7 linked regions of the Homo sapiens genome follow. The protein of the gene in region 3 interacts with the protein of the main gene of each other region in a pairwise test. Each region holds a gene or a part of one and is shown on either strand. Other genes may lie near its edges. The genes, in order: CYFIP1, DTX2, RFX6, DGCR6, ESR2, DMRT3 and PRKAA1.

Evidence for each region.
Region 1: the proteins of RFX6 (region 3) and CYFIP1 interact in a two-hybrid assay, tested with the Homo sapiens proteins (one large-scale study listed by BioGRID and IntAct).
Region 2: the proteins of RFX6 (region 3) and DTX2 interact in binary tests that used the Homo sapiens proteins (3 or more experiments, as listed by UniProt).
Region 4: the proteins of RFX6 (region 3) and DGCR6 interact in a two-hybrid assay, tested with the Homo sapiens proteins (one large-scale study listed by BioGRID).
Region 5: the proteins of RFX6 (region 3) and ESR2 interact in a two-hybrid assay, tested with the Homo sapiens proteins (one large-scale study listed by BioGRID and IntAct).
Region 6: the proteins of RFX6 (region 3) and DMRT3 interact in binary tests that used the Homo sapiens proteins (3 or more experiments, as listed by UniProt).
Region 7: the proteins of RFX6 (region 3) and PRKAA1 interact in binary tests that used the Homo sapiens proteins (3 or more experiments, as listed by UniProt).

What each region holds. Positions count from the first base shown.
Region 1 is NC_000015.10:22,970,369-22,973,868, forward strand, and holds part of CYFIP1 (cytoplasmic FMR1-interacting protein 1), read right to left. Parts: intron 1-3,500. UniProt on the Homo sapiens protein: Component of the CYFIP1-EIF4E-FMR1 complex which binds to the mRNA cap and mediates translational repression. In the CYFIP1-EIF4E-FMR1 complex this subunit is an adapter between EIF4E and FMR1.
Region 2 is NC_000007.14:76,492,709-76,496,208, reverse strand, and holds part of DTX2 (probable E3 ubiquitin-protein ligase DTX2), read right to left. Parts: intron 1-3,500. UniProt on the Homo sapiens protein: Regulator of Notch signaling, a signaling pathway involved in cell-cell communications that regulates a broad spectrum of cell-fate determinations.
Region 3 is NC_000006.12:116,929,242-116,932,661, reverse strand, and holds the end of RFX6 (DNA-binding protein RFX6), read right to left. Parts: intron 1,332-3,420; coding exon 1,156-1,331; 3' UTR 501-1,155; downstream 1-500. UniProt on the Homo sapiens protein: Transcription factor required to direct islet cell differentiation during endocrine pancreas development. Specifically required for the differentiation of 4 of the 5 islet cell types and for the production of insulin.
Region 4 is NC_000022.11:18,909,320-18,912,588, reverse strand, and holds the end of DGCR6 (protein DGCR6), read right to left. Parts: intron 2,610-3,269; coding exon of another isoform or gene 2,491-2,609; intron 2,418-2,490; coding exon 2,317-2,417; intron 1,702-2,316; coding exon 1,561-1,701; intron 1,050-1,560; coding exon 900-1,049; 3' UTR 501-899; downstream 1-500. UniProt on the Homo sapiens protein: May play a role in neural crest cell migration into the third and fourth pharyngeal pouches.
Region 5 is NC_000014.9:64,256,372-64,259,871, forward strand, and holds part of ESR2 (estrogen receptor beta), read right to left. Parts: intron 1,045-3,500; exon of another isoform or gene 994-1,044; coding exon 855-993; intron 1-854.
Region 6 is NC_000009.12:983,155-986,654, reverse strand, and holds part of DMRT3 (doublesex- and mab-3-related transcription factor 3), read right to left. Parts: intron 1-3,500. UniProt on the Homo sapiens protein: Probable transcription factor that plays a role in configuring the spinal circuits controlling stride in vertebrates.
Region 7 is NC_000005.10:40,774,375-40,777,874, forward strand, and holds part of PRKAA1 (5'-AMP-activated protein kinase catalytic subunit alpha-1), read right to left. Parts: intron 3,213-3,500; coding exon 3,071-3,212; intron 1,130-3,070; coding exon 1,036-1,129; intron 599-1,035; coding exon of another isoform or gene 554-598; intron 1-553. UniProt on the Homo sapiens protein: Catalytic subunit of AMP-activated protein kinase (AMPK), an energy sensor protein kinase that plays a key role in regulating cellular energy metabolism.

The sequences.
Region 1 (3,500 bases), on a different chromosome or scaffold from region 3:
CAAAGCCTTCTAAAGACTCAATGCAATCCCTTTGAAAATTCCAACAGCACTTTGTTTTTGCAAAAATAACCCATTTTAAAATTCATAGGAATCTCCAAGGACCCAGAATAGCCAAAGCAATCTTGAAAAAGATGAACAAAGTTGGAGACTTCACTCCTTTTTATTTCAAAACTTACCATAAAGCTACAGTAATTGAAACAGTGTGGCACTGGCATAAAGAAAGGCATACTGGCCAATTAAACAGAACAAAGAACCCAGACATAAACCTTCACATATGTGGCCAAACAATTTTCAACAATGATGTCAAGATCATTCAATGGAAAAAGAATAGTCTTTTCAACAAATTGTGTTAGGAAAACTGAATATCCACACATACATGAATTATGTTGGACCATTACCTTATATAATATACAGAAAAGTTAATTTGGCCTGGCGTGGTGGCTCACTCCTGTAATCCCAGCACTTTGGGAGGCCGAGTCGGGCAGATCACAAGGTCAAGAGATCGAGACCATCCTGGCTAACACGGTGAAATCCCGTCTCTACTAAAAATACAAAAAATTAGCTGGGTGTGGTGGCGGGGGCCTGTAATCCCAGCTCCTAGAGAGGCTGAGGCAGGAGAATCGCTTGAACCCGGGAGGCGGAGCTTGCAGTGAGCCGAGATTGCGCCACCGCACTCCAGCCTGGGCGACAGAGCAAGGATCTGTCTCGAAAAAAAACCAAACACACACACAAAAAAGAAAAGTTAATTCAAAACAGATCAACGCCTAAACATCGGATCTAAAACTATAAAACTCTTAGAAGAAAACAGGAGAAATGCTTCATGACATCAGATTTGGCAATGATTTCTTGGATATGACACCAAAAACACTGGCAACAACAGAATTAATAGACCAGGTGCTGTTGCTCACATCTGTAATCCCAACACTTTGTGAGGATGAGGTGGGAGGATCACTTGAGCTCAAGAGTTCAAGACTAGCCTGGGCAACACAGCTAGACCTTGTCTCTACTAAAAAATAAAATAAGGCTGGGCGTGATGGCTCATGCCTGTAATCCCAGCACTTTGGGAGGCCAAGGCAGGCAGATCGCTTGAGGTCAGGAGTTCCAGACCAGCCTGACCACCATGCAGAAACCCTATCTCTGCTAAAAATACAAAATTAGCCAGGCGTGGTAGTGGGCGCCTGTAATCCCAGCTTGAGTAGCTTGAGGCTGAGGCAGGAGAACTGCTTGAACACGGGAGGCAGAGGTTGCGGTGAGCCAAGATTGCGCCATTGCACTCTAGCCTGAGCAACAAGACCAAAACTCTGTCTCAAAAAAAAAAAGAAAAAAGAAAAAGAAAAGAAATAAAATAAAAAGTAGCTGCACGTGGTGGCTCACACCTGTAGTCCCAGACACTCAGGAGGCTGAAGTGGGAGGATCGCTTGAGCCCAGGATATCAAAGCTGCAGTGAGCCATGACTGCACCACTGAACTCCAGCCTGGGTAACAGCCTAGGTAACTCATCTCAAAAAATAAATAAACAATAGATAGTACCCAAAGCAATCTACAAATTCAATGCAATCTACAGGTTCAATGCAATCTACAGATTCAAAGCAATCTACAGATTCAATGCAATCTACAGATTCAATGCAGTCTCTATCAAAATACCTACCATATTCTTCATGCAAATAGAAAAAGAAATCCTAAAATTTGTGTGGAACCACAAAAGACTTGGAATAGCAAAAGCTATCCTGAGCAAAAGAACAAGGCTGGAGGCATCACACTACCTGACTTCAGAATATACTACAGAGGCTGGGCATGGTGGCTCCCGCCTGTAATCCCAGCACTTTGGGAGGCTGAGGTGGGCGGATCACCTGAGGGCAGGAGTTCGAGACCAGCCTGGCCAACATGGTGAAACACCGTCTCTGCTAAAAACAAAAAAATTAGCTGGGTGTGGTGGCGCACGCCTGTAATCCCCAGCTACTCAGGAGGCTGAGGCAGGAGAATCGCTTGAACCCGGGAGGCGGAGGTTGCAGTGATCCAAGATTGCGCCATTGCACTCCAGCCTGGGTGACAGAGTGAGACTCCGTCTCAAAAACAAAACAAAACAAAAAAAACTACAGAGATATAGTAACCCAAACAGCACACTATTGTCATAAACACAGACACATAAACCAATGGAACAGAATAGAGCCTGGAAATAAATGCATGCATTTGCAGCCAACTGATTTTTAACAAAGGTGCCAAGAACACACAATGAGAAAAGGATAGGTTCTTCAATAAACGGTGTTGAGAAAACTAGATACACACATACAGAAAAATAATATCAGACCTTGGCTTCTCAACATAGACAAAAATCAACCCGAAATGAATTAAAGACTTAAATGTGGCCAGGTGCGGTGGCTTAGCCTATAATCCCTGCGAAGCCCAGGCAGGGGGATCACCTGAGCTCAGGAGTTTGAGACCAGTCTGAGCAACATGGTGAAACCTTATTTCTACAAAAAAACACAAAAATTAGGCGGTGGCTCACACCTGTAATCCCAACACTTTGGGAGGCTGAGGCAGGAGGATCACTTGAGGTAAGGAGTTTGAGACTAGCCTGGCCAACATGGTGAAACCCTGCCTCCACTAAAAATACAAAAATTAGCCGGGCATGGTGGTGCACACCTGTAATCCCAGCTACTCAGGAGGCTGAGACAGGAGAATCGTTTGAACCTGGGAGACAGAGGTTGCAGTGAGCCAAGATCGCGCCACTGCTCTCCAACCTGGGCGACAGAGTGAGACTCCGTCTCAAAAAAACAAAACAACAACCAACCAAAATTTAGCCAGGCATGATGGTGCACACCTGTAGTGCCAGGTACTGGAGAGGCTGAGGTGGGAGAATTGCTTAAGCCCAAAAGGGCAAGGCTGCAGTAAGCCATGATTGCCCCACTGCATTCCAGCCTGGGTGACAGAACGAGACCTTGTCAAAAAAAAAAAAAAAAAAAAAAAAGGGAGAAGAAACTCCCTAACCATTAGCAGTTATTCTCACTTTTTCTACCCGTTCTTCACTGATCCTCTCTCCCCTGCTTTCTGGCCCCAGGCAATCACCTGTCTACTCTCTGTCTCTGTATATTTGCCTATTCTGGACTTTCCCCCTTGTATCTAACTGTAAATGTGTATCCTTTGACCAACATCTTCCTCTCTCCCCTTCCGCCAGCCACCCCAGCCTCTGGTAACCACCATTCTGCTCTGTTCTTCTGTGGCATCAGCGTTTTCAGATTCCACATGTGAGTGAGATCGTGCAGTACTTGTCTTTCTGTGCCTGGCTTATTTTGAGGAAATAAAGCCTCAAAAGCAAAGGCCACAAAAGAAAAAATAGACAAATGGGATTACATCAAACTAAAAATGTTCTGCACAGCAAAGGAATCAATCAACAAAGTGACAATCTACAGAATGCAGGAAAATATCTGCAAACCATATAACTAATAAGGGATTAATAATGAAAATATACAAAGAATTCAAACAACTCAATTGTAAAAGATC
Region 2 (3,500 bases), on a different chromosome or scaffold from region 3:
CTGTGGGGACAGAAGCGGAGACCAGCCACCAGCCTGGGCAGCAGAGCCGAGGTGGGCAGGGTGAGTTGCAGTGGCCCTCAGCAGGAGACACCAAAGCGTGCATCAGAGGACAGAGGTTTGAGCCCGGGAGCTCAATGCCCCCAACATCCCAAGCTTGTTCCTGGGCTCAAATGCGGTTCCTGTGGGAACTGAATGTCGGGTGGAGAGAAGGACAAGCGGGCGCGGGTGGCAGAGAGATGAGAGAGGACAAGGACAGGTGCAGTTTTCCTCAAGAGAATCTGGTGCCTCTGCGCTGCCCACGTCGTCTGGGAGGACCAAAGGCCAGGACACGTCTCCCTACCCAGGGTTCTCCGGCAACACTGCCTCAGCGGGCAGGCCTTCCCTGAACACTGCCTGACGGGGCCTGTCCCTCCAAGCCTCCCGCCCCACCCTGCTGGACTCCTGCTTTGCACTCCCCTCTGTTTCTATGGACTGTCTTCCCTCAGCACGAGTTCCACGAGGTCCCACCCGTAGCTGCATCTCCAGCACCCCGCTGGGGCAGTGCCTGATCCCTGGGAAGCCTGCAGCCCTCTGTGTTTGCTGAGGAATGAAGACATCCTTGGGCCACCACCAGCCCCCAGGAGGCCGCATGAGTGACACACGTGTCCTTTTCAATGCAGGACCCACTCCCCTGAATTCAAGTCACAAACACACAAGTTTCAACCCAGAAGCCTGGAGAGGAGGAGGGCTAGGGACAGCCCCCCAAACTCCTGACAGCCCCCAAAACACCTGAATAACTCGGAGGGCCACAGCCTTTTTCTCCACCCATCTGGGAGGATTCCCGCTGTCAGAGCCCTGAAGAGTGAAGCCCCCACTCACTGATTCTCACTTCCAATTTGCAGACACCCCTCCTTCTGACACCCAGGGCCAGGGCTGAGATCCAAGCCTCTCCTCTGTGCGCTCTGACCTCCCCAGCCTGGGTTCGAGCCCAGTGCCAGCCCTCACCAGCTGAGCAGTCCTGGGCAGGCTGCTGACACCCATCCCTGCCCCAGGCAGCAGTGTGAGCTGTGGATGGACCGCTGCTGTGACCAGGTGAGGGGTGGAGACCCTGGCTCCAGCCTCACAGTCCCTGCCCCCACCCGATAGAGGGACTGGGCTATGCCACAGCCAGGGGAGCTGTCACCTGGAGGCACTGTCACCTGGAAGCAGTGCCTCCAGCACTCAGTCCTTCCAAAGCATGACCTCCTGGTTATAAACCTCTCTGCAAAAAGCCTGTGCGCAAACGCTCGTCTCCGCAGCCGGGCATGGTATAATTCCTCAACCCACAAGCACACCAGGGTGACAGGACACTGCTCTCCAGCTCTGGCTCCGGGGTGCTGGCCAGGCTCCTCTCATTCCCTGCTCCCCTAGACAATGCTCCCCCAGTAGGTACCAACACTGGGCCTTGAATTGGGGGAGGCAGGAGTCTACACAGCCTCCAGGCTCTCCTATTTCCTTAGGCCTGAACCAGCTTCCCGAATCTATTTCCCCACAAGTAAAATGGATGTTAAAATACCTGCTTTAGCTCCAGGATTGCTCTGAGAGCAACGGGGACAGACAACAGGATGGACAATTTGGGACACAGCCTGGACAGGACCTTCAGCCTCAAGAGCAGAGGAAGGGGGCAGGTGCTAACTCCACACCCAGAGCACTTAGATCTGTGTCATGGCCTCAGAGGTCGCTCACTGTCAGGCCTGGCCACGAAGGCTTGCGAGAGCCCCAGAACTGGAAGGAGCTGGGCCATGAGGAACCGTGTGGGGGCCCCGTCTGTTTACCCACAACCTGTCTCCAATGCCACCACGGCCGCACATGCACACACGGTACACTGTGATTTCCCTACGGCGCCGCACGGTGACTTCAGTGGGCAGGGACTTTCTGGCCAGTGTGTCTTGCTCATTCTGTCTCCCCTGCCCCACTCCAGCTCCTCTCCCTCCTGCCCCCACCTCTCTGGCCGCTCCTTCATTTTCTCTTCAGTCCTGCCCACGGTCTCTGTGGCACACACGCTCCCACGAGGGGTCAGGGGCACCCCATTCCACCCAAGACTGCTCTTCTGAGGCCCACAGCCAAATCCCACTGCCCCGGAACAGCTCCAACGGCCACTCCACAGCCATCACCCCCTCCCAACCTCCCCCTAGACTCAGCAGCACTGAACCGTCATAGGCAAGAAGGCCCGGGGCTGTGTCTCAGCTCTGCCAAGGGCTGGCAGAGAATTTTTAAATTCTCCGAGCCTCAGTTTCCTCTAATGAAAATGGGAACAAAAGCCTCCACCTCAGTGATTTAAGGACGAAATGAATTCACACACGCCAAGCCCCAGGCTGCTCCTCAGTTGTGACTGGCTGCACTCCAGCAGGCCTCAGTCTACCCCCAATCCCCCCTCACAACCCCCCGCCTGACGGCTCATGCCTCTGAATGTTTCAAGCCAAACCTCCCCCTCCACTCCACTGCCTCGAAGCTGGTCAGGCCTTGGCTGGTGCCCCCAGGTCTGAGGTCAGGCTCTGCACCAGCCGCCCTACCTCCAGGCCTGTCCCCTCTCAGCCACTATGACAGCAACTCCCCTAAAACACCAACTCATTATTGAATTCCGCCACATCACCCTGTGAACAACGATGGCGCCATCCACCTCCTTACATACCTCGAACTTTCCAGAAGTTAGAAAATAACCTCAGCTGGGCGTGGCAGCTCATGACTGGAATCCCAGCACTTTGGGAGGCCAAGGCATGAAGACGGCTTGAGCCTGGGAGTTCAAGACCAGCCTGGGCAACATAGTGAGACCCTGTCTCTACAAAAAATAAAAAACTTCCCTGGCATGGTGGCATGTGTCTGTAATCCCAGCTACTCAGGAGGCTGAGGCAGAAGGATCGCTTCAGCCCAGGGGTTGGAGGCTGCAGTGAGCTATGACTACACCACTGCACACCAGCCTGGGGAACAGAGCAAGATCCTGTCTCTTATAACAAGAAAAAAAAAATGGCCAGGCACGGTGGCTCATGCCTGTAATCCCAGCACTTTGGGAGGCCGAGGCGGATGGATCACTTGAGGTCAGGAGTTCAAGACCAGACTGGTCAACATGGCGAAACCCCATCTCTACTAAAAATACAAAAATTGCCCGGGCGTGGTGGCATGCACCTGTAATCCCAGCTACTCGGGAGGCTGAGGCAGGAGAATTGCTTGAACCTGGGAGGCAGAGGTTGCAGTGAGCCGAGATCCCACCACTGCACTCCAGCCTGGGCGAGAGAGACTCCATCTCAAAAAAAGAAAAAAGAAAAAAAATCCTGCCACCTGTGGAGCTTCTGAAAACCCTGCTAGCCAGGCTGCTAAAACAGAATGGGTGTGGGGGCCAGCAGTAGGTATTTTTAAGGATCCTTAAGGTGAAAGGATTGCTTGAGCCCAGGAGTTCAAGACTTCAGTGAGCTGGGTTAGCGCCACTGCACTCCAGCCTGGGTGACAGAGCGAGACTCTTGTCTCACAAAAAACCAAACCAAACC
Region 3 (3,420 bases):
AACCTAATCCTTAATACAAATAATATGAGGCTTGTCATAAGACTATAGGAGAAGCCTGTAAAGTTTATGGAAGTCTCCTACCACAGGCCAGGAACTTTACAACAGACCTTTCAGTGAAGACATATGGAAAAGAAAAAGAAACAGAGGTAGAAAGATAGATAGTGTTATCAAATTGTATTAATTTATATGTAATGATTCCTTCACTTCTGAATTAGGCTTTGCATCTAGCTAATCCCTGAACACTCATTGACTTTCAATGTATAAGAAAGTACTTGGTAAAAGACTGCTTCTAAATCTGAAAAGGTTCAAATAGTCTACAATTCACAATTTCTTTATATGTATAGGCATGGATATGATATGCAAATGTTTTTAAATTATAGTGTTTAACCACACTACTTGACTCCTTAATCTCATTTCCAAAGGAGCTGAGATTAAAGAGTAAATCCCCAGCATTCTTCAGAAACAGTACCAGCCCCAAGAGCACCAAGCCTTTAAAAATATTTCCATACATTATTTCTTTTATTCCTTTTAATCTTTTTTAAATAAAGAGGGGAAAGCACTTATCATCTCCATTCAGTTACATAGAATCGGAATGCTGCTATGTGACAGAAATCATCACACTAATGCACAGGAATTGAAGTCAAGCAACTTTGGTCTTGTCTGAATTGAATTAAGTCTTGACCTTGTAAACATTTCCGTTGGAGGTAGAACATACACATTTGACTTTTTGTCAAATAAGGGATAGTAAACAATGATTCTGAGATCCTAATAAATTAAAGGTATTGTAAAGGCATTAAATATACTTTTTAAAAGAAACCAAAGATAAAAAGGCACACAGATGTTTAATAAATTAGAAAGTGAAATGTAAATCTTCATAGTTGAAATGTTTGCATCTTCAGATCTTCACTGGTTTTATTTGATAATTTTGAAACTATGATTAATAATGAGCTCACATTTTAAACTCTTAGTGTGCATGACAAGCTCTGCAAGTATCTCCATTCACTATGGAGTTGTCCATAGTACCAGTGACTTTAAAACAATGTCAGCCACTGCATATTCATTTTTATTTACTCTTATGGAAGTCTGAGTGAATAATGATATTTGCACAGTAGAGATTTTTTTTAAAGTTTTAGCACCCCCTCCCACATTGGTGGTTTAAGTGCCTCCAGCTGCTGTTCCCATGAACACAGTGTTGATAGGTGGTAAAGAGGACACCATTTCTCTACTGCTTGTTCCATGGGAGTCCAGGGTTTCTTGAGCTGGATACTGGTTGGAAGTTCCATACATACATTGGGATGAGGAAGAAGGAATTGGGGTTTGCAAACTGGAAGCTGTAAGGGAAAATATAATCAGCAATTGAAAATTGATTGACATTTTCTTTTCTCTGCAAATGCCACTCATTTTAATACCCTGTATTTATTTTTGCACTTAGCACACATACCTATTCTAAATTTGAGTCTGTATGGTTTACCAGAGCAATCATTTTTTCTTCCATTTGTTCCCACTTGCTAGTCTCCCAGAAATTATTTCCTCTACATATTTCACAAAGAAAACTCCATTTCAACTTAAGTGCTACCGCCAAAATATATCCCCCAATCAACCTCCTCTTTCCATCTGCACTTTCACGGTTGTAGTTCAAACCACCATCTTTTCTCTCCTGGACCAACACAGCAGCCTCCTGACTGGTCCCATGATCTCCACCTTTGTTTCACCCACTCACCTTCCCGAGAGCAACCAGAATGATATTGCTGAAGAGTAGATCAAACTTTCACTCGTCTCAAATGCCATAGTGGCTTCCGATACCCTTGGAACATGAACCAAGCATCTTACCCTATGTAGATGGGCCCCTGATTTTTTATTTATTTTGCTCTACTCTCTCCTTCATTCAACATGCTTAAGACACACTGGCCTGCTCTCTGCCCATTGATTTTTTCAAATTTATTCTGATTTCAGCGGTTCTGCATTCACTGTTTCTTCTGCCTGGAACTCCTCCCTCAGATCTTCACATCTTTGCCTCCTTCTCATCACTCAGCTTTCAACTCAAATGTTTCTGCCTCAGGATTCCTTTCTCAGCTGTCCTACCGAAAGCAGCTCCTCCTTTACTGTCTGTCATTTTACTCTATTTAATCAGGTTCAGAGTACTTGACATTATCTTTTTAATGCATTTGCTCATGTATTTATTGCCTTACTGTCCCTCTACTAGAATGTAAACTTCTTACAGGCAAGAACTATGGCCTGATCACCACCATATCCTCACATCTAGAATGGGGTCTGGCTCCTAGTCGGTTCTCAATAAAATTCATTAACTGGCTCACTAGCCCTGTATTTCTCTCATATATGGTTGCTGCCTTCTTATTGCTGACATGACGTGCTCTCTGTCTAAGAACCAGGCTTTATACTTAAGAAATAGTTGAACTCAATTCTCCTTGCACTACTTATCCACTTATTCTATCCCCTCATTTTACCCTGCAGCACACTTTGTAATCTACTTGTAAGCCAGCTCTGATAAACTAAAGCTTAGACTCCACCCTACTCTTAACCTATGTTTCGTCAAAGCTTCCACTATCTCTTCAGGTAAACAGAACTAATAGTAACAATAGCAACACAGTACATTTTAGTCTCATGGTGAGAAAACTTCCTGAAGTGGAATTTTCTGCTTCATTAGAGTAACCTAGAAGCAATGACCATTTGCAGATAGCAGAAGATGAGCTGCTAGATTCTGCTCAGGGAGCATGTGTGACAGTGACAGGAAGAGAAGGAGTACTTCCTATTGAATTATTGGGAAGGTACACTGAGTGAGGAGAGATGAAATTGATTTCATTTTCCCTTATGCTCTGGTTGCGTGTCAATGCCCTCTACTTATGCTAGTCTGAAATCAATCTCATTGGAAGACTTTAACCATCTCATATAAATATTAACACTCTGCTTTGATACTTAGTGAATATATACTTGCCCTGTGAAATCTTATTAGTATTTTTAGAAACTAAATCTATAGTGACTAAATCTATGTTATTACTAATAACATACTAATTATTATTGCAGAATTTCTTCATAGATGAGGATTAAGAAATGTAACCTGGTTGGAAGAAGATTCCAGGAGGCTTCACGGCAAGCACACGTTTTTCTTATTTTTACTTACATGATATGTTAGAGAGCAATAAAAATGGCAACATTTTCTACAGAGGTGTTGAATCACATTTTACATAAGAATGAGAAAATGCTAGTAGCACCCATCACAGGACACCAGTTTTTTTTAATCTTGGAGTGATTTTTGGATACTGATGGAGATCATGAGGCCTAAAGATATCTCTTGGCACTACAACTGGGTCCAACACTAATCAAGAGTGAGAAAAGGATATTATTACTGCCCTTTTAAAACTTACAGTTTTAGACTGCATTTGACAGGTCATATTAATCTTT
Region 4 (3,269 bases), on a different chromosome or scaffold from region 3:
GGCCCATGGGCCCAGGCCAGCACGGAGGGGACTCATGCAGATGCAGAGGCCAAGCTCCCCAGGTGGGCCTGGCACGCCTCCCCGCAGGGCTCCTCCTCAGGCCATTCCTGCCACCCTGAGTCCTCTACCCCAGTGACCTGCATCAGGCTCCTCCTAGTGGTTCCCACAGGACACTGACCAGGCTGCGGCAGGCGCATACTTGCACTTCGGGCCTTCTCCCATGCTCTCCAGCCCCCAGCCCCACAAAGCAGGCTGGATGTGGTCCTCATGCCCTGGGGCTTGGATGGGGGCCCCTGTACAGATGGCAGTGACAGCATCCTGGGACCAGGGCTGGGGCAGGAAAGGCTGGAGGGTCCCAGTCTCCAGGCAGGGGGAGGGGTGGTGGGCTGGGCACACAGCCCAGGAAGGGGCCCCCAGGTAGAGGCCTCTGCTGCAACAGAGGTGGGGGCCCTACCAGGGCCCCGGTTATGGCAGAACCTGCAGCTATCACACAAGCCACATGCGGGCCACACTGAGGCATCTTTATTTCTCTGGGTCACACAGAGCTTGGGCCTGGGAGCCTCTTCTGCATGGGGGCTGCAGCTGCCAAGGGAGCGGCTGAGACCAGAACAAGCGCTCGAGTGGGCCCCAGTGCAGGTTGGGATGTGCCCGGTGGAGTAAGGTGTGAGAACCCCCAGCCTCACTCTCTGCCTGGCCCTGAAGCAGACAGCAGCAGGCTGGCCCAGCCTCCCCTTTATGAGACTATCCTAGGGTTTGACAGCAAGTCCCAGATGAAGGGTGACAGGCAGCTGGGGTCCACCTGGTCTCTCCTCAGCAGGGGGAACCCCCTGCGGGCAGCTGGGAAGGCAGTGGCCAAAGGTCAAGAAGATGAACTCTGCCCAGACTTCTGCTGCCTGTGGCTATGGTGGGACAGGGCTGCCTTTCTGGTCACACTGGGCAGCAGGCAACTGCCAGGGACCTCCTAGCCCCAGGGCTGCCTTCCCTGCCCAGCAGCCCCTCTGCTGCAGCTTCCGGATGAGTTCCAGCAGGTTCATCTGCAGCATCAGCTCCTGGGATACAGAGGGGCCCCATGAAGGCCAGAGTGACCCCCAGGCCCCTTTCATCCCGGCCCAAAGGTGCCAGGCAGTGAGCCCACGGGGCGACCATCCTGTGAAGCCTGGTCATGGCCTGCTACGACAGGGTGGAATCTGAGCTTCTGCCCCCAGCAGGGCCACTCGGAATCTGAGCCTCTGCCCCCAGCAGGGCCACTCGGAATCTGAGCCTCTGCACCCAGCAGGGCCACTTGGAATGGCATGCGGGAGGGGAGCAGAAGAGGGCCCTGTGGGGCACAGCAGGCCTGGGGAGGGTGGGCAGTGCCCATGGCTGGCTGGCTCACCCCCCTGTAGGGAATGGGCCTGGCCTCCATGCTGGGAATGGCACAGAAATCCTTTCCAGAGCCTCAATCCTTCCACTTCACCCCCTATACCCTGAGCCTGGCTCCCCAGGGACCAGCAGTGAAATCCCAGATGGAATGGGGCCCAGGGGCACTCGGGCTAGGACAGAGCAGGCCCAGGCACTGACCTGTGGGTTGGTGGTCACGTAGAAGCCAGCCACCCCCGCCTTCTCCAGTGTGCTCTGCTGGTCAGCCACCTTCCGGTCCAGCTCCAGGACGATCTTCTGGTCCATCGCCCGCTGCTCCTCACGGATCCGGTGCTCCACCGCCTGCCGTGGGGCCGGGGGCGGCGGGGGAGGTGAGGGCAGCTCAAACACATGCTCCTGCTGCTGTCCCCAACAGCACCAGCTCTGACACCACCAATGCATCCTCACCACACCCAGGCCTCTCCTCGGCCAAGTGAACCCCTGAAGGGGGCCCCAAGGGGCTTCCACGAATGCTTTGACTTGGGACTGCCTTGGGACCACACACACATCTCCGCAGGCACACCCTGCCCCATGACTTGTTGGTTACATGCCGGTCTCTGGTTGTCCCTGTGCTCCCGGGGAGAAGGATGGGCCCCTTCCTGGCTGGCCCCATCACCCCACCATTGCCTTTGTACCCCCCGAGGCCACCTGCTCTGCGGAGACCCCAACCCACGAGGGGCACTAATGGACTCCAGGGGAGCACTGGTGGGTTCTCACCCTCCACCCAGTCCCAGCACACCTGGCACCCTCAGCGAGGAGCCACCTGGTGGGACTCACTAGGCCTCCAGTGTCCCACTCAGGCCCAGGGTAGCCACCCACACCTGAGCCCCCCACACCCCTTCAGCTCAGCCCAGTCAGCAGAGCCAGGTGGTGCCCACAGGAGAGCTGGGCCGGCCACCCTGCCTGCGTCCCCAGTACCTCTAGTTCTCGCTGCTGAGCCGCCTGAAGCACAGGCAGGTTATGGGGCCGGCAGGCCTGCTGGGCTTCCTGGTGCTTCTGCCGCAGCGCCTGCCTGAGCACTGGGAGGGATGAGAGCCCGTCAGCAGGCGGTGGGACTCGGCAGCAGCCCTCACCCATGGGCACCTGCCTTACCAACCCAGCAGAGCAGCCAGGCCAAAGGGGTGTCTGCACTGGGGAGGACGCCAGCCTCCTCCATCCTCCCACCCCACTGTCACGGCAAGTCTCCAGGGGATTCCAGAAGGTGCGGGGCACTGAAAGAGAGTGGGGGTGGGGAAGACTGGCCAGGTGGGGCCAAAGCTGCAGCCCCAGACCCAGGGCAGCTGGAGGGGGCAGGCGGGAGGGAGGCTGCAGTCTGAGGGCTTCAGGGCCCCCGTGGCCACAGGCCATAGGACATCTACTCAAGTGTTGGAGACCACCTCAGGCAAAGGCATGGGAAAGGAGCAGGAGGAGCCGGGTCGCTGACCCTGAGCGTGGGGCCTCTGCCTACCAGGTGTGTGGTTGGCCCCTCCACCCTTGGTGCTGCCCTTCAGGGTGGGCAGCCCCCTCCCCCATTTGCAGCTCCCAGCCCCTACACAGCACCAGAGGGAGAAGGGTGAGCTGACCTGGGAGGCCCAAGTTTGGGATGAACCTGGGGTGTCATAAGCCTGTGAGGCTCTGGGCCAGGGAGTCTGTGTGGCTTTGAGGGGCTCACCCTCGGCCACCAAGCAAAGCTCCACGGTCCCTGCTAAACTGTGCACAAACACAGATGTGCAAACTCTAGTCTGAAGGGAGTGTACAGAGGAAGCGATCATGGGACATAAACCATCATGGCAAAATGGAACATGGAGCACCCCGCAGCTGGCGCCAGTGCATTAAGTGCCAAATGGCTACAGTTCCCCAGGAAGGAGGGGTCCCTGGCCACAACAAAACGT
Region 5 (3,500 bases), on a different chromosome or scaffold from region 3:
AGTTTTAGTAACCCTTCCTTCCACCGCTATTGCCAAAAATGCTATATAGTACATGCATTAGAATGTGTTAAAGCAGATCGGGCATGGTGGCTCACGCCTGTAATCCCAGCGCTTTGGGAAGCTGAGGTGGGCAGATCGCCTGAGGTCAGGAGTTCAAGACCAGCCTGGCCAACATGGTGAAACCACTTCTCTACTAAAAATAGAAAAATTAGCCTGGCATGGTGGTGGACACCTGTGATCCCAACTACTTGAGAGGCTGAGGCAGCAGGATCACTTGAATCCGGTAGGCGGAGGTTGCAGTGAGCCAAGATTGCACCTCTGCACTCCAGCCTGAGCAACAGAGAGAGACTCCATCTCAGAAAAAAAACAAAAAACAAAACAAAACAAAACAAAAAAAAACAAAAGAGTGAGTTAAAGCATGTGAAAATAAACTTGGCACATTTCTAAGAATTTTATCACCTGTCCAGAAAGCTCCAGATATAATTGGTCACTATAGGTACAAAAAACAGCAGGACAACTTAAGATTATAACCTGAAAATGGAATTTTTAATGGAGAAAAATCTGTGTCGACTTATACACATAGTGGCCACATACCTACGGGATACAGTCCCCTATTAAAGCGCTGGCCTGTAAATGCTGCTGCACCACAGATTAAAAATGAGTCACAGGACCCTGAATCCTTGGACCCAACTCTCTCCTTCTCTGGTTCTTGACCCAGTGAAGGAGCTGATGATGCTATCATCCTCTGCCCTGCAAGTGTGAGATTTTAATTGCAGCACCCAGGACTTTGTTCCCACTCACTAAGCACCTTACTCAAACAAGTCAGAGAAGAAACACAATGTATTTTTTCTCACCTGTCCAGAACAAGATCTGGAGCAAAGATGAGCTTGCCGGGGTGGTCAATTGAGCGCCACATCAGCCCCATCATTAACACCTCCATCCAACAGCTCTCCAAGAGCCGCACTTGGTCGAACAGGCTGAGCTCCACAAAGCCTGGGGAAAGCAAGAGGCGGTGAGACACCCCCACCCCTCCTCCTCAGCTCCCTGTGTGTGTAGAGACAGAATGGCAAGTGTTAAAACACTAAGAAAACACAAACCATTAGGGAGTTGATATTTTATAGATGTGATTAACTGCTCATTAAAGGAAGAAAACTTTGAAGTTAAGCTGCGCAACTTAGTTTCCAGTCTTGGACCCCTTCTAGAGACAAATATACTTCATTTAGAGTTTGTCAAGCACTACGACCTCGGCTCAGAACTGATCTTTGTTAGCTGTGTCCTGATAATTCCTCTGCACTACTGAGAATGTTGATGCTTGGCTGCCAGTCAGAAGACCTGCCTGTCTGACCCAATCCTTGACTGGGATCAGAAGGGGTGGGGGATGGGGTAGGTGGGGGATGGGGTAGGTGGAGGTTGGGGTTGGAGGCTTGCAGAGAGCAGTGCCAGCCCTCACAGAAAACCAAGGCCTCAACTGCAAGGATTTCTCTGATTGATTAAAATTTCCTATCCAGTGTTAAGATCCTTCTTCTGGGTAGAAGCACTGTTTCTGGGTGATTCTATCCTAAACAGCAAATATAGCCAAGCACACCTGTAATCCCAGCACTTTGGGAGGTCAAGGTGGGTGGATTGCCTGCACCCAGGAGTTTGAGACCAGCCTGGCCAACATGGAGAAACCCCATCTCTACAGAAAATTATCTGGTCATGGTGGCAGGTGCCTGTAGTCCCAGATACTCTGGAGGCTGAAGTGGGATGATCGCCTGAGCCCAGGAGGTCGAGGCTGTAGTGAGCTGAGATCACGCCACTGCACTCCAGCCTGGGCAACAGAGCGAGACCCTGTCTCAAAAATAAATAAATAAATAAATAAATAAAGAGCAAATATAATAACGAAGCAGGTCCTGACAACCTAATAACCCATGTTGGTCACAGTACTGTTTGCAAACAGGTAATCTCTGGGGAGGGAAGCACTTCAAAAGCAAAGCAGAGAACACCGGGGCTTCCTTCACAAGCCATGATAAAAAGAGAGGGCCATGTAATATAAATATGATAACAAAAGACACCGCCTTGGAGTGAAATGGACTCTGGTTCGAACCCCAGCTCAGCCTCTTTCTAGCTGTTCACTTAATCTCCCATTAAGTCTTTGTTTTTCTTATAGGAAAATGGGGGTAACAATGCCTATCTCTGAGAATGTCTTATAGGCAGGATCTCTTATCATTCTTGTTTTACAGATGAGGAAACTACAGCAGAGAGAACACACATGGTTCAAGTCTTTGAACAATTATAACGCAAATCTGCCTCAAGGAGAATGTAATGGTGTTATGAATGTAAAGATGGATAAATACTTTCTAAATCCACATGCTTTGCTCAGTTTAGGTTCCTAATGTGTATATACCTTCCCAGTCTCACCCATAGTGATTGACAATAAGCCTACCCAAGAGAGATCACGGTTCTTAATCTTGTAGATATTCAACAAGATCAAGGCTAGATGATATTTTAATATATATTTTTTGGTTTGGACAATGACTATGCCAGCTAAGAGAGGAGAAAAAAAATCACGCCTTCAGATTATGTCTACGTTTCCTGAAAACTTTTCAAAACACCAGGCTTGAATAAGGAATAATGCAGTTTAAGAGTTCAGATTTCTTATGGCACAAAGAAGGTGCACAGCTTTCAGCAATAATTAATTTCACCACTGCTCTCCATGTGTGGTCCTGCAAAATCGTGTTTGGAATACATTTAAAGCAAAAACTAGAGGAAAGTGCATCAGTATTGCCTCCCCTGGGAAAAAGCAGAGAAAATAAAATAATTCTGGCAAAGGTGAAGATGCTAGACAAAACAAAATACAACTAGAAACCAAAAATCCTCAGGAAGCTCAGAAGAAATGGGCCCAGGCCAACAAAAGTCCCCAAATGATACTGTCACCATAGGCCTCAGTTCCCCAGGCTCTTTACCCAAAACTTCTCTTCCCCCAGCTTCTCACCCCTCCTCATCTTTACAGCTTGCCCAGTGCAGTCGCTGCCCTCCAGGCCATGGGAATGCCCCCAGTGGCTCAGAACTTATAAGAGACTTCATTTCTTCAAGGACTGTAAAGAACAGCATGGAGAAGCTGTCACAGGGGGATCGTGGGGTGTTGCCACTCTAGGTTAGAATCCTAGATTCACTCCTCCACAGAAACACCAAGTCAAATGATAATTAGCTGGTAATTTTAGCATCATACAGCACTTCAGATATATATTACAAATGGGCTTGAGAGAAGTGATCACTTTGGAGGATGGAAAACGCAGGTTCCAAGTGACAACTCATGAGTAACTAAGCTCATTTTTAACTTGATGGCATTCCAGGTTTATGGGCCCATTGATGATTCGTGTAACTTCAACCACTGATTTACTCTGTTTGTCCATACATATTCATTTATGTACATAATATTGATTCTCTACTGGAACAATAATTTACAAAATTCTATTTAGCATCTGACAAACCTTTCACTTTCAAACTAGTCATACTGT
Region 6 (3,500 bases), on a different chromosome or scaffold from region 3:
TCCCAAAGTGCTGGGATTACAGGAGTCAGCCACCACGCCCGGCCAGCTCAACTATTTTTAAAAGAAATATATGAACCAAATAGCTTTGTGTTTTAAAAGGTACATCCCCTGCCCCCACTTTAGATAAGTTTCAAACACTGAAAACATATTAGGAAGTGTTTTCTCAGGTCTGTCAACCAAATTGACTCTTCCACAGTACACTTCAGTCTCCAGAAAAAAAGTGGATCAAACAGCAGAAGGCTAACTGAAAGGGGAATTAGGGAATGAGGTTCTCACTAACATAATGACTCTACCATTACAAAAATGGAGGCTTTTTTTTTTCAAGGTAGCAACAGATATACTGTCCCAATCAACTGAATACTTGATACCAGGATTACAAGTCTGACAATATAAAATTCCACTCTTGTACCTATTTTCCTAAGTTCTGCGGAACAGACGGTAGTGGAATCTTATGTCAGTGCCAGCTTGTTCAGCAATTGTGAACTCTCAGACTGTGAAAGTCACTTTCTCATTTTGTTGTGTTACCCTTTGCCCCTGCTACTGGGACATGCTAGTGCATCATGCACTTCTGGTTACTTGTCAAGGAGTGGTGATAGATTACACCGAATCCTCCATGCTCTCTCCGCAGGTCTCTGTGCCGTCTGGCTATAGCCAAAATATGAGAAAAGCTAACACAATGTCACAGGAATCAAATCTACAAATTCAGCGTAAACCAACCAACCAGCTGAGCTCAGCACTGCTTACACTGTGTTCAAAGGAAAGACAAAGATGATGAAAGAACAAGCAGAGCACACCTGTGAGGCTTATGCACCTGAGCCGCACACAAGGTCCTGCTAAGTAGTGCTGGGTGAGCCAAATCCCCATCAACATGTAAGGCTGTTGGAGTTTCAAAACTAGGCAAAGGAAGACTAGCCTCTAACTTTGCACCAAGAATAACTCCTCACCAAACAATAATTTCTGAAGGGCAGGATATATAGTTCCTGCAATTTTGTGGCGCTATGGTGTCTAGTACTGGTTGTATTATTGCACCTAAACTAAATATATTGTAAATTATTCTATTATAAATACAGACTTTCACAGGTAATTATAGAGGGTGAGTTTTGAGCCCAGTGATAAAGTGTAATTTAATAACAGGTACTTCTTTACATCTCCAGATTTGTTCTTAAATAAACTTTACAAATCATTCTAGTTGGTTTAAAACATAAAGGCCTTTCTAGACATAGAAATGTGAAACTGCCAACTAACAAAATAAAATAGGAAATACTCCTGAAACATTTTACCTTCTTTCTTCTTGAAACTGAAACCCTAATTCCTAGAACATTAAGAGTGTATATCAACTGATAATATTTTTACCCCGGTAGATGGGTATAGAAAGTCAAAGCTATTAAACAGGGAAGAAATCAATTTTATCGAATATGACAAATATTACTGAAAGTGATACAATATGCTGTTTCTATTGCTAAACATGTACATATTTTTAAAATCTTAATATTCTCTCTTCCATTTCATATTTCATGGGGTAGAAACACTTATAGCTATCCCTGAAATAAACTGTGCACTAGGGTAAAGAGGTTTTTAAAAGAAGTAGATATTCAATTAAAAAGAAAAGTTTTTCTACAGATAACAATGCTACCGACTTCAAAATATATATGCCATAAGATGACTACAATACTTTTTTTTCTTTTTTTGCTACAAGACTTTAAAGAGAGAAAATAAACACTCACAAAAGTGCTTTCAATCTAAAATTACAGTTTGAAAATGTAACTTTCTTTAGGGGAGTTTTTCACATAAAAATGCAATTTAGTAAAAAAAAAATGTATTATTTCAAATACTTTGAGAAAGTCTACCACATATGAGAAACAAACATTCTGCTCACGATGCATAAAAGTGAAAAATCTGGCTGGGCGCGGTGGCTCACACCTGTAATCCCAGCACTTTGGGAGGCCGAGGCAGGTGGATCACGAGGTCAGGAGATCAAGACCATCTGGCTAACATGGTGAAACCTCATCTCTACTAAAAATACAAAAAAAAATAGCCGAGCATGGTGGCAGGTGCCTGTAGTCCCAGCTACTCAGGAGGCTGAGGCAGGAGAATGGCGTGAACCCGGGAGGCAGAGCTTGCAGTGAGCTGCAGATCTCACCACTGCACTCCAGCTGCGGCGACAGAATTAGACTGTCTAAATAAAAAAAAAAAAATGTGAAAAATCTTTCTGACTTAGATGTCATAGGTTATATCCATTCTATCCAATTATATCTACGAAAACAAAATAGTTCTTACATACAGAATGAAAACACAGAAAAACTCGAGCAGAGAGGAATATTTCCTAGCTCAAAAGTCACTGGACTCCCCCATCCCTTTTGAAATCATGTCACGCATTTTGAAACATAGATTGTCATATCCTCATCTGTTCACTTGAGCTGTGGGGAACACACCTGTAAATAACAGGTCCTTGATGGGTAGTTTTCAAAGCACATAAATCTTACAACAATGGCAAGGGAGGGAGCCCAGGCAGGATGAGACTTTTACAGGAGACCATTGCCTAATCAGAATTCTAATCGTAGACAAACGCTTCACATTTTCTCTTACCTTCATCTCACACTAGAAGTGATGAATTATTTTAAAAAAATGAATAGTTGAAAATCTAAAGAACACCAGGGAATGATCTCGATCTAAAAACTTTCCTTTTCTTCCTGGGGTGGATTGCCGGGTTGGGGAGGGTTGTGAAAAGTTAAAAAAAAAAAAAAAACTAGCCATGCTTTACTTTTTAAAAAATCATTAACAACACTGAATTAATAACGTATGAAGGAATCAGAGTGGTTCCTTGACACTATATTTTGGGGGAATATTGCTATAGACAGGACTGGGCTGAAGGAAGTATGGTTTGCAACTGTGGACCTCACATATTTTGTAAAAAATTAGTTTTGATCTCTTTCTTGACTCAGAAGGGAATACCTTCCAAGAAGCAGAGGGGAAATTACCTACAAATCTACATGTTTATTTGGTACCTTCCAAAATGCACCTGTCTAACTCATCCATCTATTTAACAAATGCCCCTAAATGCCTTACTATGCTCTCATGTACTGTGCTGGGTAAGATCATACAGAGATGATCAAAGCATTGCCTCTTGACCACTGAGAGGCATACAGTTTACTAACTAATCTTTTGCAAAATTCCAAGTAAGCTGCAGTTGGTTATATTTCACAGTGAAATACAGCAAATAATTCCAAGGATAGCAGCTGGGCAGACCATGGTGTCTTCACAGGAGGAAATATTGTTTTAAATGCTTACATATAAAGATTATGGGTGCTAGAGATATATACTGAACTAAACAAAGTAATAATCAGTGGGAAAAACGTGGAACACTAATCCCAGCTCTGTAAAATTTATGTCTGCCTAGTTGTTGTAATCAAGAGATTGGAGATTTTGTAAAGAATTGATGTGCCGACTCTTAAGTTTTTCATTATTATTATTGTTACTTGGTACTTGATTGTGCCTTTTAT
Region 7 (3,500 bases), on a different chromosome or scaffold from region 3:
AAAATTTCAGAAAATAAGAAACTTTTGAAATAGAAAATACGGGTGCTGAAATTTTAATATTCAACTGGTAAAACTGAAGAAATACCCACAAGGTAAAACCAAGAAATAAACAACAACAGAAAAGATAAGAAAAATATATATCAATTGTGCCTGTTTCCCATTTCTCCAGGCAGAATTTTTTTTTTTTTTTTTTTTTTGGTAAGGAGAAGCAGGAGTAAAGGGGAGTACCTGAAATAGAAATGAATCATGTTAAGAAATAGTAAAATCAAAATTAACTTGGTTAATAAGTTTGATTTTGATAAAAGTAAATAGACATGCTATATAGAACAAATGAATGAGTAATGTAAATAACTTAAAATTGAGAGAAAAGCTCTCTTTTCAGGGCTAGCTACAGCTCTCCCACAAAGGGGCTTTTGCATACCACATAACCTGGGTATGAGAAAAAGTATGGGCAGAGGGCAGTGTTGAGTTTTTGTATCTGTAACTTAAGGTAGTGTTCAAAATGTCCTACAAAGTTCCTTCCAGCTGTAAATTCTTTATATCTAATTCCTACCTCCTTCGTGGAGCCTGTTTTTACTACTCCAGGTACATCAGATTTCTGAAACCAAAAAATGAATGCAATTTAAATGTGGCTAGAATTGACTAGCAAGGCCTAGATCTTTAAGTAATAATAATATATTTTGTAACGATTAATTACATTAAGATACATATTCAAAGTATTTGTATACCCTGGAAGCATAAGTCTGAGGATTATGAGTTCTGGGGGCTCAAGCCAATTCCGTCATTAATAAATCACGTTACTGTGAGCAATCATATAAGCCGCGAGGCTCAGTATCCACATCTGTATAAACAGGCTAAGGAGATAATCTTTAAGATCCTTTCTAGTTCTACATAGTTTATGATTCTAAACAAATATATGACTAAGGGAACTGGTTATTAAATAGACCTCTTAAAATTGGTTGCTGACATTTTGATGCTAGTAAAGGATAAAGGGGAGTTACAAAATACATACAGAATTAAAGCAGAACAGCTTACCCTTCCATTCTTACAGATATAATCAAATAGCTCTCCTCCTGAGACATATTCCATCACCATGAAAATATCAGATGGTGTACTGATGACCTGGTACCTGGTGAGAGAAAACATTGTCTACAAATATTAAAACACATATATTCATTCATTCAATAAATATTTACTAAGCACCTATAGTATACCAGGTACTAGGCTAGGAGCTAGAAAAACTGCAGGAAACAAAAATTCTCTGCTCTCATGGAGTTCATGTTCCAGGAACCAGGAAACAGACACTAAATAAATAAGCAATATCTCAGGTGGTGGAACATGCTATGAAGAAAAATAAAGCAAATGAAGGGGAATCTTTGTATACAGAGTGCTAAAGGAAAGCCTCTAATAAAGTAACATTTGAGCTGAGCCTAAAAGAAGAATGGGAACAAATTATGTAATTATCTAGGAGGAAAGCGAAACTGGGAGAGGGAATAGCAACTGCAAAGGTCCCCAAGTAGAAGCCTGCTTGGCATGTTCGAGGAATATTAGAGAGAAATAGGATGTAGAGTCAAAGGTGTTAACTGCAGGCCAGAAGACACAGAATTTTACAAGCCATGATAAGGCTTTGGCTTTTACTCCAAGGAAGATGAAAAGCTATCGTACGTTTTAAGCAGTCATGTGATCTGGCATATTAAAAGTAAAACTATGGCAGCAATGTGAAGAATTAACTGTCAACAGTAAAGGTAGCCACAGGAGGTTACTTCAGGATTTCATGAGACAGATGGTGGCTGAGACCAGGTTGACAGCAATAAAGGAACTGAGAAGCAATCAAATCCTAGCTTGATTGTGAAGGAAGAAATGAAATGCATGGTAGAAAGTGAAAGAAACAGGGAAGTTAAAAATGGTTCCTAAGTTTTAGCCCTGGGTCATTGGCTGTTAGCCAAGATGGTGAAAACTGTGGGAAGAGCAGGTTTGGGAGAGTAATAAAGAGTTCATTTTGGGCCGGGTTGAGTTTTAAATGTCTTGCGAACATCCAAATGGAAATGTAAAGTCAGCAGTGAGCAAATAAGTCTGGTGTAAGAAGAGATCTTAAAGCAAGAGATGTACATTTAGGGGTGGTCAGCATATGGATGGTATTTAAAACCTAGCACTCAACAAATGAGAAGAGGTAAGAGTGAAACAAGTTTGAGTCAGCCAGTTCAGGAGAAAAACCTAAGCATCTTTAAGTTATTGCCTGCATAACAAAGCAGAAGCTGAGCAGGAAATAGTTATTTGTAGACTCTATAACTGGCAACTGTAAAACAACAGTAAGATTACTGCCCTTTTGAAACCTTGGATTCCTGAAATTTTGTTATCTATATGTTCAGGTATAAGCAGGATGGGGAAAAACCCTTTCTACTACCGCATTCTCACTAGTGAGGCTAACTGACATCATGTGGGCATTTGGAGGTCAAGAGTTTTTACTAGCAGATCACTGTTGGTTTTACAGCAATGGGGCACCAAACATTACCAGAAGAGCATCTTTCCAGGAGACAGGAAAGAATGAGAAGATAACAGCTGATAAGCACAAGGGCAAAACATGAACACAGGCTTAAATGACCATCAATGGGGTTAGAAAAATACATGAATGGGAAGAAACTTTTATTTTTTTTTGGGACAGAGTTTCGCTTTTGTTGCCCAAGCTGGAGTGCAATGGCACGATCTCAGCTCACTGCAACCTCCGCCTCCCAGGTTCAAGCCATTCTCCTGCCTTAGCCTCCCGAGTAGCTGGTATTACAGGCGCCCACCACCATGCCCAGCTAATTTTTGTATTTTTACTGGAGACAGGGTTTCACCATGTTGGCCAGGCTGGTCTCGAACTCCTGACCTCAGGTGATCCGCCTGCCTCAGCCTCCCAAAGTACTGGAATTACAGGTGTGAGCCACCGCACACAGCCTAGGAAGAAACTTTTCAAAACCCTTAGGAAACAAAAAGAAGTGTCAGTCATTTTTCTCACTTGTCACATTAAGTAGGTTAACAAAAAAGATGAAAAGATGACTGGACTATATTTAATATAAACAGAGCTTACAGTTTAATTATATGAGGATGCCTGAAAAGCTTGAGGTTCTGAATTTCTCTGCGGATTTTTCCTACCACATCAAGGCTCCGAATCTTCTGTCGATTGAGTATCTTCACAGCTACTTTATGCCCAGTCAATTCATGTTTGCCAACTGTAAAAGAAGTAATTTAATAAATTAGTACTAAGTATGATTAATAATATATTTACACATATTCTGGCCCGGTGCAGTGGCTCATGCCTGTAATCCCAGCACTTTGGGAGGCCGAGGCGAGTAGATCACTTGAGGTCAGGAGTTCGAAACCAATCTGGCCAACATGGCAAAACCCCATCTCTACTAAAAAATACAAAAATTAATGGCCGGGAGCGGTGGCTCATGCCTGTAATCCCAGCACTTTGGGAGGCCGAGGCGGGCAGATCACCTGAGATCAGGAGTTCGAGA